Linked DNA regions of Homo sapiens: region 2 is linked to region 1. Evidence: fine-mapped expression QTL. A gene starts in region 1. The other region holds a variant in brackets. All regions are shown on one strand. Distances are between the middles of the regions.

Evidence for each region. PIP is the estimated chance that this variant, and not a neighbour inherited with it, causes the effect.
Region 2: its variant is the best candidate, but not a certain one, in a credible set for the expression of BAALC in nasal epithelium (TOPMed, PIP 0.50).

Annotation. Positions count from the first base shown.
Region 1 is chr8:103,136,231-103,144,564 of GRCh38, forward strand. BAALC (BAALC binder of MAP3K1 and KLF4) reads left to right here and starts at 4,495. Exons shown (of 3, transcript NM_024812.3): 1 at 4,495-4,827. The coding sequence starts at 4,668. It overlaps LINC01181 (long intergenic non-protein coding RNA 1181), which reads left to right. Exons shown (of 6, transcript NR_145429.1): 4 at 123-308; 5 at 2,976-3,138; 6 at 3,643-4,125. BAALC-AS2 (BAALC antisense RNA 2) reads right to left here and starts at 5,112. Exons shown (of 2, transcript NR_027071.1): 1 at 5,024-5,112. RefSeq lists a silencer at 4,531-4,720.
Region 2 is chr8:103,213,461-103,221,794 of GRCh38, forward strand. The region is part of intron 2 of BAALC (BAALC binder of MAP3K1 and KLF4); the gene reads left to right. Among named protein-coding and RNA genes, the nearest start is that of BAALC-AS1, 45 kb to the left of the region's middle. The variant CCA/C (reference allele first, on the strand shown) is at 4,905.

The sequences.
Region 1 (8,334 bases):
CTGTCCACATCACCTGGATTCCAGGTGTACCATTCATGCCCTGGGGAAAGCAGTCATTCTTCAAGGCAACAGATGCAAGAATGAGCTCATGTCAAATGATATTTTCTGATTTTTTTCTCCAGATGTGGGGAACGAAATTGGATCTTGTGCTTTTGGGTGCTAACTTTGAGCCCTCTTCCTTTACATCTAAATGACAATTTGTGGATCAATGAGGATGTGTCAACTAGCCAAGATCGAGGACCTGGAGGGGTGCTCTGTGGAAACTGCTTTAAAATCCTTCAGAGGGTGGGCACGGAGCTCTGGTTCTGGTATGTTCACTGAATCTGTAGCAGTGGGGAAACTTGCTGAGATTTGGCATTCAAGACCAAAGAGATTTACCTAGGATCTGTACCCTGTTGGCCAGAATTATTGCTACTGTTGTTCTTCAATTATGCTACTTTTTCACTTGGAAAGAGATGGAAACTTGTAAGGCAGTGAATCTATCTTTACTCCTTTTCAGATGGCTGATTCTAAAGGCAGGTTTAGGTTCCTGCTAACCCTTCTGTTCTGTCCTGATTGTCCGCCTTACTGAAGGTCTGTTTTCTACAGCTCACAATAGTCGGGTAGAGTCCAGTGATGCCAAGCCACAGAAATGAGACCTTGGAGGGAGAAGCACTACAGGCCTTTGCTTCAGTTTCCATAGAAATGAGCCAGAGGTGGTACCAGTCACAGGGGTTCTTAAAGCCAGAGAGAATTTATTTTGAGAATCCCATCATATAGCAAATACCACTCTGCAGTAGTTTTTACAGGTGTAATTTATTTCATTGCTCTGGATGGCTTTGGCTCAGGCTTTCCAATGCCCTGTTGCAGCATTTCTCCTTAGGAGAATTCTTTTTTTGTTGCTTTCAAACTTGATGGAAAAAGATAACCAATTCATGCCAGTCAAGCTACAGATTCTGAACAGAGGGTTTAAGATAATGTATTACATTTTACATATTTACATTTAATTTATGACATTTATTCCTGAAGGTTTAGGAGAAAATTCAATCCCAACTAAAGAGCTGTAATTAAAAGAGCACGGAGCCAGCAGCCACAGGCCCCCAGCTCTGGCTGAAACTTCAGCTCTGCCAGAGATAACATTTCCTGTGTGACCTTGGGCAATTTTACAGCTTTCTGAGCTACGATTTCCTAGTTGGTAAAATAAAAGGACTGGATTGGCTGCTCTTTAACTTTTTCTGGCTTCTGAATTTCTCTGAATCAATGGTGTTACGTAATGCCAAGAAAGAGATTCCATGAAAAAATCTAACTGCTCTGTCGATGATGATTACTTAGAAATGGGGGTAAAAAAATTTATTTGCAGGAAGGTTGTTAGCAGTAACATCATAACGGAAGGAAAAAGAAAGGAAAGAAAAGAAAAAAACCTACCTATTTACCAAACTTCTGCAGTGTGCTAAGCAAATTCACAAACATTATCTCATGTGAAAAGACATAATAATTTCAGGGATTTCCCTCTTAAGGAAGAGAGATGACATTGTTGCTTGTTGCCCCAAAAGTGTTGTGATAGCAACATTCATGGAGTGTTTCTATGTGCCAGGCACTCTTTGAGGCCCTTTACACATACTGACACAATTTATTATTCCAATTTACAGACGATGCAGTTGAGGCATAAAGAGGTTAAGTAGCTTGCCCAAGACCATCCACTTAAGTAGCAGAGCCAAACTTTAAACTCAGAGAGTCAGGCTCTTGAAATTGCACTGTTAACTGTATCCCCACCTTGTCTTTTGCTATTCATTCATTAGGCAAACATTTGATGAGCACTGACTCTATGAAGGCATTAAGTTAATCCCTTTTGAAGATTCCAAGCATGTCACCATATCTTTGTCTTTAAGAAGCTTAAACTATACACAATAGATGATCAGAAATGTGTGTGAAATGAGTGACCACACTCAACCTTAGCCAGGCAGTACTTGATAACCATCTCCTGTATTCTGGAAATGTTCATAATTCCATTCAAGTAAGTAGACAGGGCCTGGCAAGAGGGGTCCCTGCTCTGGGCTCCTGCCCCAGAGGTCCCACTCTGGTTCTCCAGCCCTGGTCCTCTCTATGGCCAAGGAATCCAGGGATCACAGAATGCACGTACCTGGAGCCTGAGTCTCAGCCCCTTCTAACCTCCCTGTTGGGTAGTTGAGACCTTGCAACTCTCTTCTCCAAACCCACTGAGCCTACTTCCAGGGCTTGTACTGGAAGCAAACCCCATGAGGGCAGACCACATCCCCCAGGCACATGCTCCTCAGCCAGAGGGATGGCCAAGGGCAGCTATTTGTGGGAGGGGAGTATGGACAGACCTTAGACCCATGGGCCCACAAGGACCCGTGTGTAGCAGGACTGAACTGAGGATAGAAAGAGGAGTGGGTGGGTCAATTCCACCCACAATCCCACTGCCATGTTCAGTGCAGAACTCCAAAGACTGAGAGAACTCTACATTAGAACCTGGCCTTTTAAGTTTTTATGAAGATAACTTGTCAAGGTATGAGGACAGCCCATGTTTCAATTAAACTTGCTCACTTGGTTTATAGCTTTTACAATTTAGACATATGGGCATGTGGGTTTCTATTTGGCCCCAGGATACCCCTCCACTTCACCTCACGTTTACTCTGTTTCCTGTGCTCACCAAGCTCTAGCTCTTTCAGTTTCTTTCGTTTTCTAGAACTCCCCCAGGACGGTCTAACTCAGACACTCTTTCTGGTCTGTCTGCTCTTTGGGTGGTGACATCACGAAGTGGCTGGTTATGAAAGGAGCACTGTGCCGTAGAACTGAGGAAAGCACAGGCTCTGCTAGAGATGTTAAGTATTCTCTCTCCCTGAAAGCTGGTTCTTCTGAAATCAAAATATTCAGGGGGGAAGGAAAAGAGGCACAGGGCATCTGAATTCCAAAGGACTAGGGAAGCCACCACTTCCCGGATAACTGCACTCCCTCCACCTTACACCTAAAACAAGGTTGAAGAGTCCTGTCAAGGCCATCTCAAAAGGAGAAGCAAAGCCTGCAGAGGAGGCCAGCCTGAGTCCTGGGGTGCGAACGGGTGCTGCGCTCAGCATGAGGAGGAGGAGACCCTGGCCACAGTTCCATGAATCTTTGCTCCCTTCCACATTATGGATTCTGGTGAGTGCCTGCCAGAGGAATGTCTGACAGCTCTACCCTCAACTGGATCATCTTTAGCCCAAATTACAATAATTTAAGTGAATCAAATTACTATAAAAAGATACTTCATTATTAATTCACTGGACATTTACTGAGGGCCTACTCTGTGCCAGGCAATGCTCTGAACTTGCCCTACCTATTGGATGCTACGTGCTAAATGTTATAGACAATGTACTCTCGTACATTCTATAAATTATATAGGATATAATGAGTACTATATTCTCTATGCTTTACATGCTATATTAAACATCACACCCTATAGTCTACATACAATGGATAATATACAAAATATATTATATATGTATTATGTCTACTAGAACAGTCTTTTGCCACAATAGGAATTTAGTAAATATACATTGAATGAATGAATGAATGAATATGATACTTAATACCATATTCTAGCAGAGCTTGGTCATTGAAGAGTTATTCTTCCAAACCCTTCCCTTTCCTACCCCCCTCTTGAAGGCTAAGAAGATTTTCATCTTTCACCACCTGTTCTGGATTCTTGGAACAGGTAAATTCATTGGCCTACGCAAGTCTGAGCTCTAGGTCTGAACCCGCATGGACCTGAGGGTGCACCGAGAAAAGAAAGGCTGACAACTGGATCCCGGGAATGTCAAGGCCACCCTGGGCTTGAAGGGACCGGCCATGCCTCCAAGCCTTGCCCAGAGAGGGGGTTCAGGATGCTGCGTGGTTCCAGGTGATCTATTGCTTTCTCGAGTTTAAAGTTCAGAGGATCATGAAGTACCACAGCTGGAAGGGGTGTAAGTGACACTGCCTAGCCTAACTCTCTTAAAAATCATAGCCCTACTCCTGCCTCCCCAAATCAGATACGACAGGCATAGGCTCTGACTGTTCCTTAAGTCTTAGTGGCAATACTCCCTGACCAGTTTTGCGGGGTTGCTCCCAGTTCCATTGCTTTTGTAACAGGTGGCCAGAAAGCCTGGGGTCCCGTGATAAGAGTTTCAGTTCTTTCCAGGATGGATGGAAAGAAGGAAGGAAGGATGGATGGATGGATGAATGAATGAGCGGGTGAGCGGATGGATGGATGGATGGATGGATGGATGGATAGATGGGCCAGAGACTGGGAACGGTAATGCCGGCCAGACGGGTCCGAGCGCCTCGGGAGCCCCAGCCCTCCTCCGGCTGCGGGGCCGCTGCTCCTGCTCCCGGGCCGTCACGGAGCCCTGAGGGAGGGGGCGGGCGAGCGGGGGCCTTGGGGCGGCCAGGGCGCTGGGAGGGAGGACTGGGCGGTGGGGACCGGAGGGGAGGGAGGGCCTTGGAGGCGGAGAGGAGGGACGGGCTGGGAGAGGGCCCGGACTAGGGGCGGCGGGCACCGCAGGAGCTCCGCGCGGCTGCAGCGCGGGCGGGAGCGGGGACGCGATGTCGCCGCCGCCGCCTCCTTGCGGGCCGGGGCTGCGCCTCCGGGGCTGAGCCGCCGCCAGAGCCGACAGCCGAGCAGCCGCTGGGCGCTCCCGCGGCGCAGGAGGATGGGCTGCGGCGGGAGCCGGGCGGATGCCATCGAGCCCCGCTACTACGAGAGCTGGACCCGGGAGACAGAATCCACCTGGCTCACCTACACCGACTCGGACGCGCCGCCCAGCGCCGCCGCCCCGGACAGCGGCCCCGAAGCGGGCGGCCTGCACTCGGGTAAGTGGCCGGGCCCCTGCAGACCCTCGCCCGCCCGCTACCCCGGGCGCCTTGGCCCGGGCACTGAGAGAGGAGCCGGTTCCCTGAGGAATTGATGGCGCGGCGGGGGTGGCTGGGAGGAAGCAGAGGCAGGACCTGCCCACTGATCAGTGGACAGATGCAAGCCCAGGGAGTGGGGTCGACCAGAGCCCCTTACCGAAGGCTGCGCCGATGCCCCAGCTTCCAGCAGCCCAATGCTCTTTGGCCTTGTCCAAAGCTTGCTCGCTGGTCGGGAGACCGGTGGGTGGGAGGACAGCCCACCTCCTCCGCACACATATCCCTCAGCCACCCACCCCCTGATCCGCCCAGGGCCGCCTCCGCCCCGCTTTGGCCCATCTGCCATCCCCTGGCCACCTGCGTACCCAGCCGGGTGACTTCTCATCCATTGGCCACCTGGTGCCCCTCTCTCCCTGGATTTATACACAAGGCGCCTGCCTGGGATCGCCTGGGTGGAGTCTTTCTTGTCGCTTCCCCTTTTCTCCCTCTAGGAAATGAGCCCACTCGCGGGCTTCAAAGACCAGAATCCCAGTTTAGGTCAAAATAAATGCACCCCGCCCCATCGCTAGTTCTGCACTTTAGGTTACTTTTGGAGCAGTTGTTCCATAGCAAAGGACTTCTCTCCCTACCCTATGGTGTCCCAATGCTTTGCAGGAGGCAGGGCACACATGTGGATTTTGACTATAAATTAAATACTCTTGCCTAGGTCATTCCTCATCCAGCAGAAATCTGATAAAAGGAGATGCAAAGAATTGTCTGGTCAGGTCATAAGTCAGGATTTTATTTTATTTTATTTTTTTATTTTTTAGCAGAACAAGTAATTATAGCGCAGAGATGCAAACTGTTGCCACAGACTGACCTTTAATCATAAACATATTGGTGACATTAAAAGGAAAAAATCTCACTACTTATTACATGGATGTTGTCCAAAGCAAGGTCAATATTTGGATAAAAATGTTTTAAGTGTTTCTTCACCCACTGATATTATTGGCATTTTTGAATAATGAAATCTAAAATGGAAAATAGGGTTAATTTGAAGCATAATGTATAACATATGGAAGAGGAAGGAAATGCGAATTACTTTTACAAGGTTAAGAATCTTAAATCCATGCCTACTAAATAGAGCTGTCACTTTAATCAAGAATAGGTTTCTCCATTTTTAAGGACCAAAGCTGGCTCCTTTTCCACATTAACTTTGTGACTTGGTTTTATTTTAAAATTGAGGACTGTCTGTGAAAGCTGTACAATACATTACACTATATTTGTCTCCAGTTTTTCTGACTCACAGTGGCAATCAGAATGGTTATTTTGTATTGCCAATGCTTTTAGCAAGTCACCAAATGGTGTGTTGGCTGAATTCAGTGTCAGCATGAGGATAGATATGAGCCTTTTAGAGGGACCTGGTAAATGTTAGATGTGACAGGGTTTCCCAAGGAGGTATGGTACTTCTCAGCAGAGAGTCAAAGGCCAGAGATGTACTCCGAAGAAATAAGGGTGAAAAGATCTAGCATGAAAAAAATAATAATAAAAAACAACCAAAACCCCGTAAGTACAGCTTTAAGAAATGGTTGCCGTGGTGACTGGGAGTATATGGTGTGTGTGTGTATGTGCGTATATGCATATGTATGGGTATGAAAGAGTTATTATGGGATGGCTCTATATGTACATACATGTTCCTCACAACTTTCCTGACACTCCTTGATTTATTACTCTGCCATACTAATTCATATCCCATCCATCATGAGATCTGGTCACTGCAACAGGTGGGGCCTGGGACAGACACACTCATTCATGGTACCCTGCCAAACATGGGCCAGCCCTGCCAGAGAGGTGGTCCTGAAGGCCTGCATCCTCCAGAGGAGAAGCTCCACTTCAGCCCCAGGACAGCACCCTGAAATTGGCAAGACGCTTGTATGGGCAGGGTCATTTTAATTCCCTGGGAATTTCTGTTAGCCTCAGGGGAGAGGGATATTTCTGAAGACCAAGATTAAATCAAGGCCTTCTTTGGGGGTGTACTGGCATTCCCTAGGGCCTTTGGGAATGGCTTGACTTCTGTGGGTTTTTCAGACTGGGAGCTGGTCATCTTTAGTCAGAATGGGTCATCCGTGAAAGCTACAGATCTCCTGGGTTTCAGCCACCCTGGGAGACTGGCCAGGATTCTGTATTCCTTTCATCTTCTCTGCCCCCTCACTTCCACCTCACCCACCCCCTGCCAGTGCTTTACTCATGATTTTACTCCCAAGCTGCTGGGGGACACCTAACAGCCCCCAGTGGCTGCGTTGTGATAGGAGGCCAGAATGCCACTTTTTCCTGTTTACAGAAGTTGTTTTCTGATGGGAGAGGTGGGTAGGAGTAAATGAAAGAGCCAGTAGATTCAGGAGAGTCCAGACTGTGAAATCAACAAAAATGGCTTCACTACTAGAATTCTAGAGCTGGAGAAGGTCTCTGGAAGTCAGCCACGTGAGTCAAATGAGACTCTCAGGGGAATCATCCCCATCTGAACACTCCTTCAACCACTCACAGACTTTACCCTCAGCTCCCAAGAATCCCTTCTTTCTGGGACCTTAGTGATTCTCCTTTGGTGTCAAACTGAAGCCACCTTTTCTCCTGGCTACTTCAGGACTTTTGAGGGCTAGGGGAGAAGCTAATTCATCTTTGCATCTTCTGTGCTGAACACATCTGGGACTTGTAAAAGTTTTCAGAATGAATGGATGCTCTGTCTGAACCTGTCCTCCGTCCTGTCAGCTCTTCCTAGAGCCCCTTCTGCCTCTTCTTTGCAGTACTTGCTACTGAGGTTTTCCCACTTGAATCAATTTAGCCTGAATTCTTCCAACGGCCTTTCTGATCGCACAACTTCTCTTTAAAAAGTTCTCCCCAACTTTACCCTACTCCATTCAAACACCTGGCCCAACCCAACGATTCCATTTCTTCTGTAGCCTCCCTGAACCCACAACCTCAACTCCACAAACATGTCTGCCCAAGAAAAGTCCCATTTAATCATATCTGCTTTTAAATCTCACTTGTGTTTCTCTTAGCCCAATCCAGATTGAGGGTGTGTCACATGACAGGTGTTCAGCAAATATTTGTTGAATGAATTCTGAATTTCACTGCAGGGAGGGGGCATGTTTTTCTCCCAGTTCCACAAAGAAGAAGGTTTCTTGCATCTTCTTACTCAAAAAATGATCCTGAGCCTGTGGTTCCTGTTTTTGGAGATCATCTCCACTACTCAATGGAATTGAATTAATTTTTTAGATTTGACTGTTACGTAGGCTAGAATTTAAAAGCTAGCTGAAGCCAAGGTATGTGATATCCATTGCTTTCCTGTGTCACCAAAGTCTGTCCCTCTGTTACAGAAGGAAATTAAATTGGTCTGACATAATTTAATCCTCATAAAATCAGTCTGCTGGATTGATTTTTAATTCTGTTGCCTGGTGGGGGTCTCCAAGGAGAAAGGAAGTCTCTGAGGTTGCC
Region 2 (8,334 bases), 77 kb after region 1:
ACCAGAGTGGTTGGAAACAAGCCTCGCATTTTACTCAGGCCCTCCAACCAGGTGGACATTGGAAGGGCCCCCAAGGGTGGCTCTCATAGCAGAATGTGGTGACAGCATCATCCCCAGACTGTTGGAAGAGGCAGGTCAGTGATGTCCCAGGACGTGGCGGGTATCCTTTCTTTTCTCCCAGAGCTATTGTTGGGAAGATCCTCTTATGGGTACAGGAGGGGCAGCCCAGAATGAGCGCTCTTAGTAGGCAGGGCTCAGGCATCTGCAGTCTCTTCCTCTTCCACCCAGTTCCTCCTTCTGACTTCCTTATCTTCCCTATGCCCCACCCCCTTCAAAATCCACTGCTTACCCTAGGCTCCATACCCATTTTCTCCTATCTCTTCTGTCAAAATTATACTGAACCAGGTTCATTCTGTCTGTGCACAGCAAACCAATCACTGTGACAATGGGTTTTGCAAAAGAGAAAGTTTATTCATGAGGCAGCCAAGTGAGGAGGCAGAAGAACAGATCCCAAATCTGCCTCCACAAAGATAGGGTTTAGGGCTATCTATGAGATAAAGAAGCCGGGTAATCTAAGGCATGAGGAAAGATGATTGGCAGTGGGGGAAAGTGAGATAATCAGTGGTCTGTGCTTGCATAGTCATGGTTCATGGCTCTTCACAGGATTCATGTTCAGAAAATGGCTGTGTTTGCATGATCTTCAGGAAGAGTTTTGGCCTTCTGACTTCAAAAGGTCACCTCTTGGGCATTTCTACAAACCCAGTTGAAGGGTCAGTGATCTCAACTGGCTTTAACTGGACAAGAGCTAAGCCCAAGTTCCTGAAAAACAACTTTAAGCAACTGTTACAGTGGTGATCTATATGTCAGATATGTAGTCTGTAACAAAGCTAGTGGATTGGTTAGCTATGGGACTTTCAGCTATATGGGTTTTAAGATTAACTAGAAGTGAGTGATTAAAAGCAAGCAATGCAGGTTAAGTTTGATAGGCTTAATCAGGTTAGTCCCCAGTTCCAAAAACTTACTGGTCCTGTCCCCTCGGGCCAATGCCACCTGTTTTCTGAGAGTACAACTCATTATCTAATGATGGAATTCTTGCTCATATCAGTGAGTTGCCTCTCTAAGTTTTGGTCAGAAAACCTGTTGCAAATTCATCTCTAAAGCTCACTAACTAAAGGCCTTTCAGAAATGACTTAATCTCTCAGAATCTCACGTTCATTATCCACACAATGGAAATAATACAAAATGAGTGAACAGATGAGCCTCCTCTTATAAACTAGGATATAGATAAGAATGGCAGTAAGGATTAACAGGGGATAGTTAGGCACACAGCACCATAATCCACTTAAATGAAACACTAATGGTGGCCCTGCAGACACTGGAGAAGGTAATGAGGGGTGTAGACTTCAGGGTTGTGGTGTCCTTAATAGAGTTCTGTATTGTCTACTTTGCCTGTGCATTAGGTGGCCTTCTAGAGACCTAATCATCATTGCCATCTCTCAAGACAGTCTGGACCCACAGAACTACGTTCAAAAGCTTGATGACTGCTCTACCACAGGCCCAGATATTTGTCTTCTAGTCTCCTTCCCACACTTGTGCCCTTACCCTCTGAGCCAGGATAAGCCGTGGTCAAGAGGAAGCAGCTTTGCCTGGTGGATGGCATGATCCATACACTTGTTTCCCCACCTCATTTCCTGCCCCCCCATCCATCACTTTAAAATTATGTTTTGCAGTTTACAAAGTGCTTTTAAGTCTACTGGCTCCTTAAGTTCCCCTAAGAGCATTGTGAAGTAAGCATTATCCCCATTTTATAGACAAGGAAACTGAGGTTCATTTGATTGAGTTACATGAATAAGGCCATATAAGTGTTGTAGAAGGATATTGGTAGCTTTAAATCAGAAAAGGTTTCTATTAAGAAGATAGAACATAGCTTCAAGTACATTTTAAAAATGAATAGTGTATTAGTCAGTTGTTGCCTCAATAATGCTGCATAACAAAACACAGCAACATTCAGTTGCTTGAGACAACACCCTCCCGCCACCCCCACCACTGCCACCATGGTCAGCTGTAACTTAAAAAGGCTCAGTCTGACTTTTCCAGGGCTGGCTCAGTCTGTTCCATATATATTATTCTGGAAACCAGGCCAAGAAAGCAGCAGCTTTCTGGGGTATATTCTTATGACTATGGCAGAAACCCAAGGGGGCAAAACCAAACTACTTGAACGCATTTCGTGTCTCTGCTCACATCATACTGACTAATATCCCATTGGCCAAAGCAAGTCAAATGGACAAGCCCAACTTTAAGCAGGGAAACATACTCCGTCCAAAGTGGAGAGAGAGCAAAGAATTAGGAGCAATAATGCAGGCTACCACATACCACATACATACACAAAGAAATGCAACTCATAACTTCAATGAATTCTTATAAGGTGGCACATCCATGTAACCATCATGCAGATGAAGACATAGAACATTATCACCAGCCCAGAAATCCACAATGTCACCATTCTTCTCACTCCTAGTATTATAGATCAGTTTGGTTTGAGACTTATAAATAGAATCATACAAGTGTGAGCTTTTTCATGTCTGGCTTCTTTTGCTCAACATTATCCTTGTGAAAATCACCCATATTGTTCTGAGTTGCAATAATTTTCTCATTTTCATCGTTATGTATATTTCCTTATATGAATACACTGCAATTTACCCATTTTACTTGATAAACATTTGGGTTGTTTCCAGTTTGGGGCTATTGTGAACAATACAGCTTTTAATGTTTGTGTGCATGGTTTGGTGGACAGCACTTCTTTTGGGAATATACCTAGGAGTGGAATTGTTGGGTCACAGGACAGGGGTATATTTGACTTTCATAGACATTGACAAATAGTTTTCCAAAGTGGTTATGCTGCTTTATACTCTAACTAGCAGTGGTTGAGTTCCAGTTATGGAACAAAAGAATTAAAAATCAGTAAGTTGTGCTTAGTCTGTCTTCCTTGTGGTAGCAACTACTTATTAATTAATTAATTAATTTATGTATTTATCTATTTATTTATAGATGGGGTCTCACTCTATCACCCAGGCTGGAGTGCAGTGGTTCGGTCACTGCCCTCTGCAGCCTCTAATGCCTGGGCTCAAGCACAGCCTCCCAACTAACTGGGACCATAGGCATGCACCACCATGCCCAGCCAATTTGTTAATTATTTGCAGAGAGGAGATCTCACTATGTTGCCCAGGCTGGTCTCAAACTCCTGAGCTCAAGCAATCCTTCTGCCTCACCCTACCAAAGTGCTAGGATTATAGGCGTGAGCCATTGCACCCGGCCACTACCAAGTATTTATTCATATGTGGTCTAGGTATGACATAGGGTGCAAAGCACTTTGTTATGTTATCTCTTAATCCTCACACTAACTCTATAATGTTGACATTGTTGTCTCCAATTTACAGATGGGAATTGAGACTCAGATATAGCTAGGGAAAGCATGCCCCCATGCCGCACATACACACACACCCCACACACTTTGGGAGCTCATGGGGCTTTAAAATGGGGCGGGCAGAGTCAGCCCCCGTAGGGCTTCAGCAGCAGTGGAAACTGTCACAGAGGAGTGATGACCACACACACCTGCCCAACGCAGCACCCCTGGGCAGATGATGCATATCAATGAGCAGCCTGTGCAGCTTTTGTTTTCATAATTAAATGAACATGGCTGTGTTGTAACTGTTTTCAAAATAAGATCAGGGAGCTGATAACTTTAGTTTTAACGGTTTATATTTAAAAGATAATCAGTGGTCTTTACATCCTGCGACCTCACCAGTCACTGGCCATTCTGAGTCCCTCAAAGGCCAACGCAAAGGTTTTCTGTCTAAGATGTTTAGAAGCTAAGTTTACCTGTGATTGATGCTTCTGTCAGCAGAGCTACCTCATACCAACACTCAGGCAGGCTCTCAACTGCCTACTATTTGCCCAAAGAAAATACTTTTCTTCCTATTCCCTCCTGGGCCTTTGATATACTGTTTTTTTCCTAGTGTGTCTCTTAGACTCTGGGCCTAAGCTTTGTGCATTTTCAGTATCTGGCTCAGTCAGTATCCACTTGCCTCTTCCAGTCTTCCATTGCACCCCTATATGAGCTACTAGCATTTCACCACGCTCCCCTTAGGCACCATCAGGCCACCTGGTTGGTGGTTCTTCGGCATTTTTTTTTAAAGCTTTCCTTCTCTAGAAGATCCCTTTCATGAAGCATGTGTCCTCATCCACAGGCCTACTGCAGTGCTGCCATTCAGATTTACAAAACAAATTTGTATGTGAAAGGCAATCCTTGCGAGGCCTGGAAAATTTTTTAATCAGTTCCTATAACTACTCTTAAGATTCATTCATCAAATGTTCATTGAGTGCTGTCTAGGTGCCAGGCACTGTTCCAGTGCCAAGGATCCAGGGGTAGAAAAGACAGACATGGCTTTTGCTCTGAAGCAGCTGCTAGTTTTAATGGAGGTGGGTTGGGAGCCAAATAATATAGAATAAATAAAGCATTTATAGACTCTGAATGGTGCTATGAAGGAAGTAGAAGGTCACTAGTCAGGGGTAGCAGCTACTCTATTTAATGCAGATGCCACCTCACGTTTAAACTGCTTTCCAAAGGGTGATGGGGCAACTAATGTTGCTTATGGCTGTGAGCAACAGCACCTTGTGTTTGGAGCCCTTCTCCACTTCATGTCCCATCAAACAAACCATATCTTCCTTTTTGTCAATTCCCTCCAATCCCCCCGCCTTATGCCTGGTGTTAATAGGTGTTAACTGGCAAGAAGATTGTGGCAAAAATGATCTTTCATAAATTGGAACTGACTGTCTCAGTGGGGAGCTCTTTCTCTTTCTCTATTGCACCTTGATTTCCCCAGTCATTTGGGGCCTTACTGACT[CCA/C]GAGTGTCTGATAAATCATTGGCTTGGTCTCCTTCATCCTACTCCCTACCTGAGCTCAACAAACAACACGAGAGGCAGCGCTGTAGTTGCTTGTCTTCTCCCACTAATTAGTTGTTCAGGAACTTTGGGCTGCCTCCAAACATTTACTCTCTAACCTGAATGTGCCATTTCCTTAGGCTTAGGACTCTTATTCCCCCCCACCCCTTAAAATACCTCCTCAAGTATTCAGCTACAGTAAAAATGTATATGTGGCCATAGCTCAAGTAGAAAAGGCTCTGACATGTGGCTGGCCTTCCAGGGAACCCTCCTGTCTTCAGAAGCTGCATATTTTCAAGTTGCTTTATTATTCTTGACAAAGTGACTGGACCGTGCTAAAGGAACTAGCATGGGGACTGATTCTCAGCTAAGGAGTTTTCTCCCGCTCCTCCTCCTGTCCCCTCCCCCAGTGTCTGGTCAACATCATTGGCAAGGCCTGGCCCAGTCTGGGAAAGACAGGTGAAGGTCCACAGAGATAGGAGACCTGATCAAGACAGGAGGTTAGGACCAGCCCAGGATTTCTCCTGGATAACACTAATATGAGACATATCAAGGGAGAGTTTGGAAAGTAAATATGAGTCTCTCCCAGAAAAACAAAAACAGGACATTAAAAGGAGGGAGCGAACAACAGAAACCTCTGGGAAAACCAGAGAGGGGAAGCTATTAGAAGGGCACTTTGGTGTCCTTTCTAGTGCAAGCCTGGGGAAAAAGGAAGGAATTTAGCAATACAGAGATGTGCACCTACCTACTGGCTGCTACCTCTTGTAGAGATTTGTAAGACTCGGTATTCATGTAAGGGTCTGCAGTCAAACCAGTTCAACTGGAAGGCTCTCAGGGCAGACACTGCCTTATTTTTCTTTATATTCTTCCCTTGACTCCTGAGCCTACTTTAGGGTTATGAACCTAACAGGTACTCACTACCTACGTGTTGATTAACTGAGACAGCCTAGTCATCACTCAGATTAGAAAAGGTTCCCATAGCTTCAACCCCACCCATCCCAGCTCTGCACCACTATCCTGTGATGACTGTTCTGTGGTTGCCCAGTTGCTTTTCTAAAGCAGGTTCTGCTGCCTTCCTAATGTCTGATCTTCTATCTGAAGTTCAAGTTGAAAAGCAACAACTCCTTTTGGCACTCGATACAAACTCCCAGGGTGAGTAAGTCTAAGTGTAGATGGGGAAGGGGGCTGCGGTCTGCACAGAATGTGCTCCAGGCTTGGAGGAATCTTAAGAGTTTTACCTGCAGCATAGTCTGACCCCTGCGTTCTGAGGCTAGCAGCTGGCCCTTGGTGGAGTTGCTAAGATCAAATATCCCCTGACTGACCTTGCATTAATGCCGTACAAATTCACAAAGCAGCAGCAAATACATTCACAGAATTTGAGAACAATTAGGGTGTGTTATTGTGTATCTTCCTTTCATGAGACCTGTCTGAAAAGAAGTCAAACATCTGGAGTTGCAGCTGCCAAAGCTCTCGTCTTTAATCTTTTGGGAAGGAAGAGAGGATAAAACTAATATTTTGACGTGCCTACAACGTGCCAGACACACTATGACATCATTTTTAACCCTTACAACTCTAAAAGGTAAGCAACATCATTTCCTACCTGGGAAAACAGAGGCTCAGAAACTAGATATCTGGTCAACATGGCCCAAGGAGTCATGATTTGGCTGTGTTCAAATTCAAACCCAGGTCTGTCTCCATCTAAGCCCCAAGTTCTTCCTTCCCATTATCTGAAACTTAATGGCGGAGAATTTAGAGTGAGCTTTGGCAGAGTTGTGAGAGGTGGGATATGAAACCTGGGGCCACCATCTTTAGTTTGACTCATCACCCATATTGACATTGGCCTTGAGTTAATTGCATTTGCCTGAGTGGTTTCAGCTGCCTCATTGGGAAAGCGAATACAATAACATTCCCACCTGTCTCTCAGGGATGGGGCAAGGAATGATTAATCATGGATGTAACTGAAATCTTGTAGGAAAGTTCTGGGACACTGAGGCAGGGCAATGCACACAGTTTCTGTTCCCAGGGATTTTTCTTTTCTTTTCTTTCTGAAGATTTGTCTTCACACATGTGTTCATGGTCAAATTATTTACTGAGTGTCTATTATGCGACAGGCACTAAATTAGAGTCTGGGCAATACTATAAATGAATGAAATAGACTAGGTTCCTACTGTCTTGAAGTTTACAATATGAGGAGGAAGCAAAAAAGAAGTTAAAAAATAAATGCATAATTTAAACTGTGGTTAAAGGCCAGGAAGGAAGTAAAGAACATAGGGAGAGAGAATAACAGAGCCCTATGCTTCTATATGCCTAGAAAATCCCTGCAACATTCCATAAGAAAATATTAGCCATAATTATCTCTGGGGAAGGCACTAGAAGCCCTTCTCTACTCTTTGAATTTCTTTTTGCCATAATTATGTCTTCCTTTTATAATTAAAAATACTACTTATACAGAAAAATTGGTGTCTCACACATCATAATCTCAGAAGCCATGTTTTTCTTTGTTGTCTGCAAAGAACTATGAAAAGGTTTGTATAATCCCATGTTAGGTACAGATATATTTGTGGAGTTCAAGCAAAGCTGAGAACATCTCTATTTCCATTTGGGGGGAAAGTGAGAAAAGGCTGAACAAAGGTATCTGCAGTCTTGAATCCAGGTCTCCAGGAGCAGCCAAGCTGTCCCAACCTCCACAGGAAATGGGCTGATTATTGACATCTGAACCCCAAGATAAACAAGTCCATCTGGGTCAGAGACTGCCAAGAGGTTATCACGGTCAATCTGGTTACCCTTGAGAAATGGCAGGCTACTTTTAATTAAAGAGGCAGTATCAAGAAGACTAAAATCTATGATTCATGGGGTACTAAAGCTGCAGAAATTAAAATGAGGTAAGGAAAGAGTTGAAAAGCTGTAAAACTAGGTGAGAAGCCAGAGGTGGCCCATTAACAAGAGTCAATGGTGATAAAACTCACAAAACAAGAATGTTAGAAGTAGAGGAAGGATTGGCACAGCTGCATGAGAAAAAGGTGCTAATTAGGCTCCTCTCATTATGGAATTGGGGGCCATACTTTTTTTTTTTTAAGCCAGTAATTGCAATAGAAACACATTTTCTTTTCCTGTCATTAAAAAGGTATGGGGGGTGATGTTAAAAAAGGTTTGGCTGGCTGGAAACTACATCAGAGGGGAAAATACGTTGTATAAAGCATCACAGGCACTGAGGGACAAAATGGTGTGATTGTTTCTTGTGTTTATATTGCTCTTCTCAGCGGAGGGCAAAACAACTCACTTCTCCAAACTTCTAGATAAAATATCTGGCATTGTGATTCTTTTTCTCATCTTCTTTCTCTCTCTTGCTTGGGCTTGAAATCTAAGGTTTTTGAGATGTAACTAGATTGTGT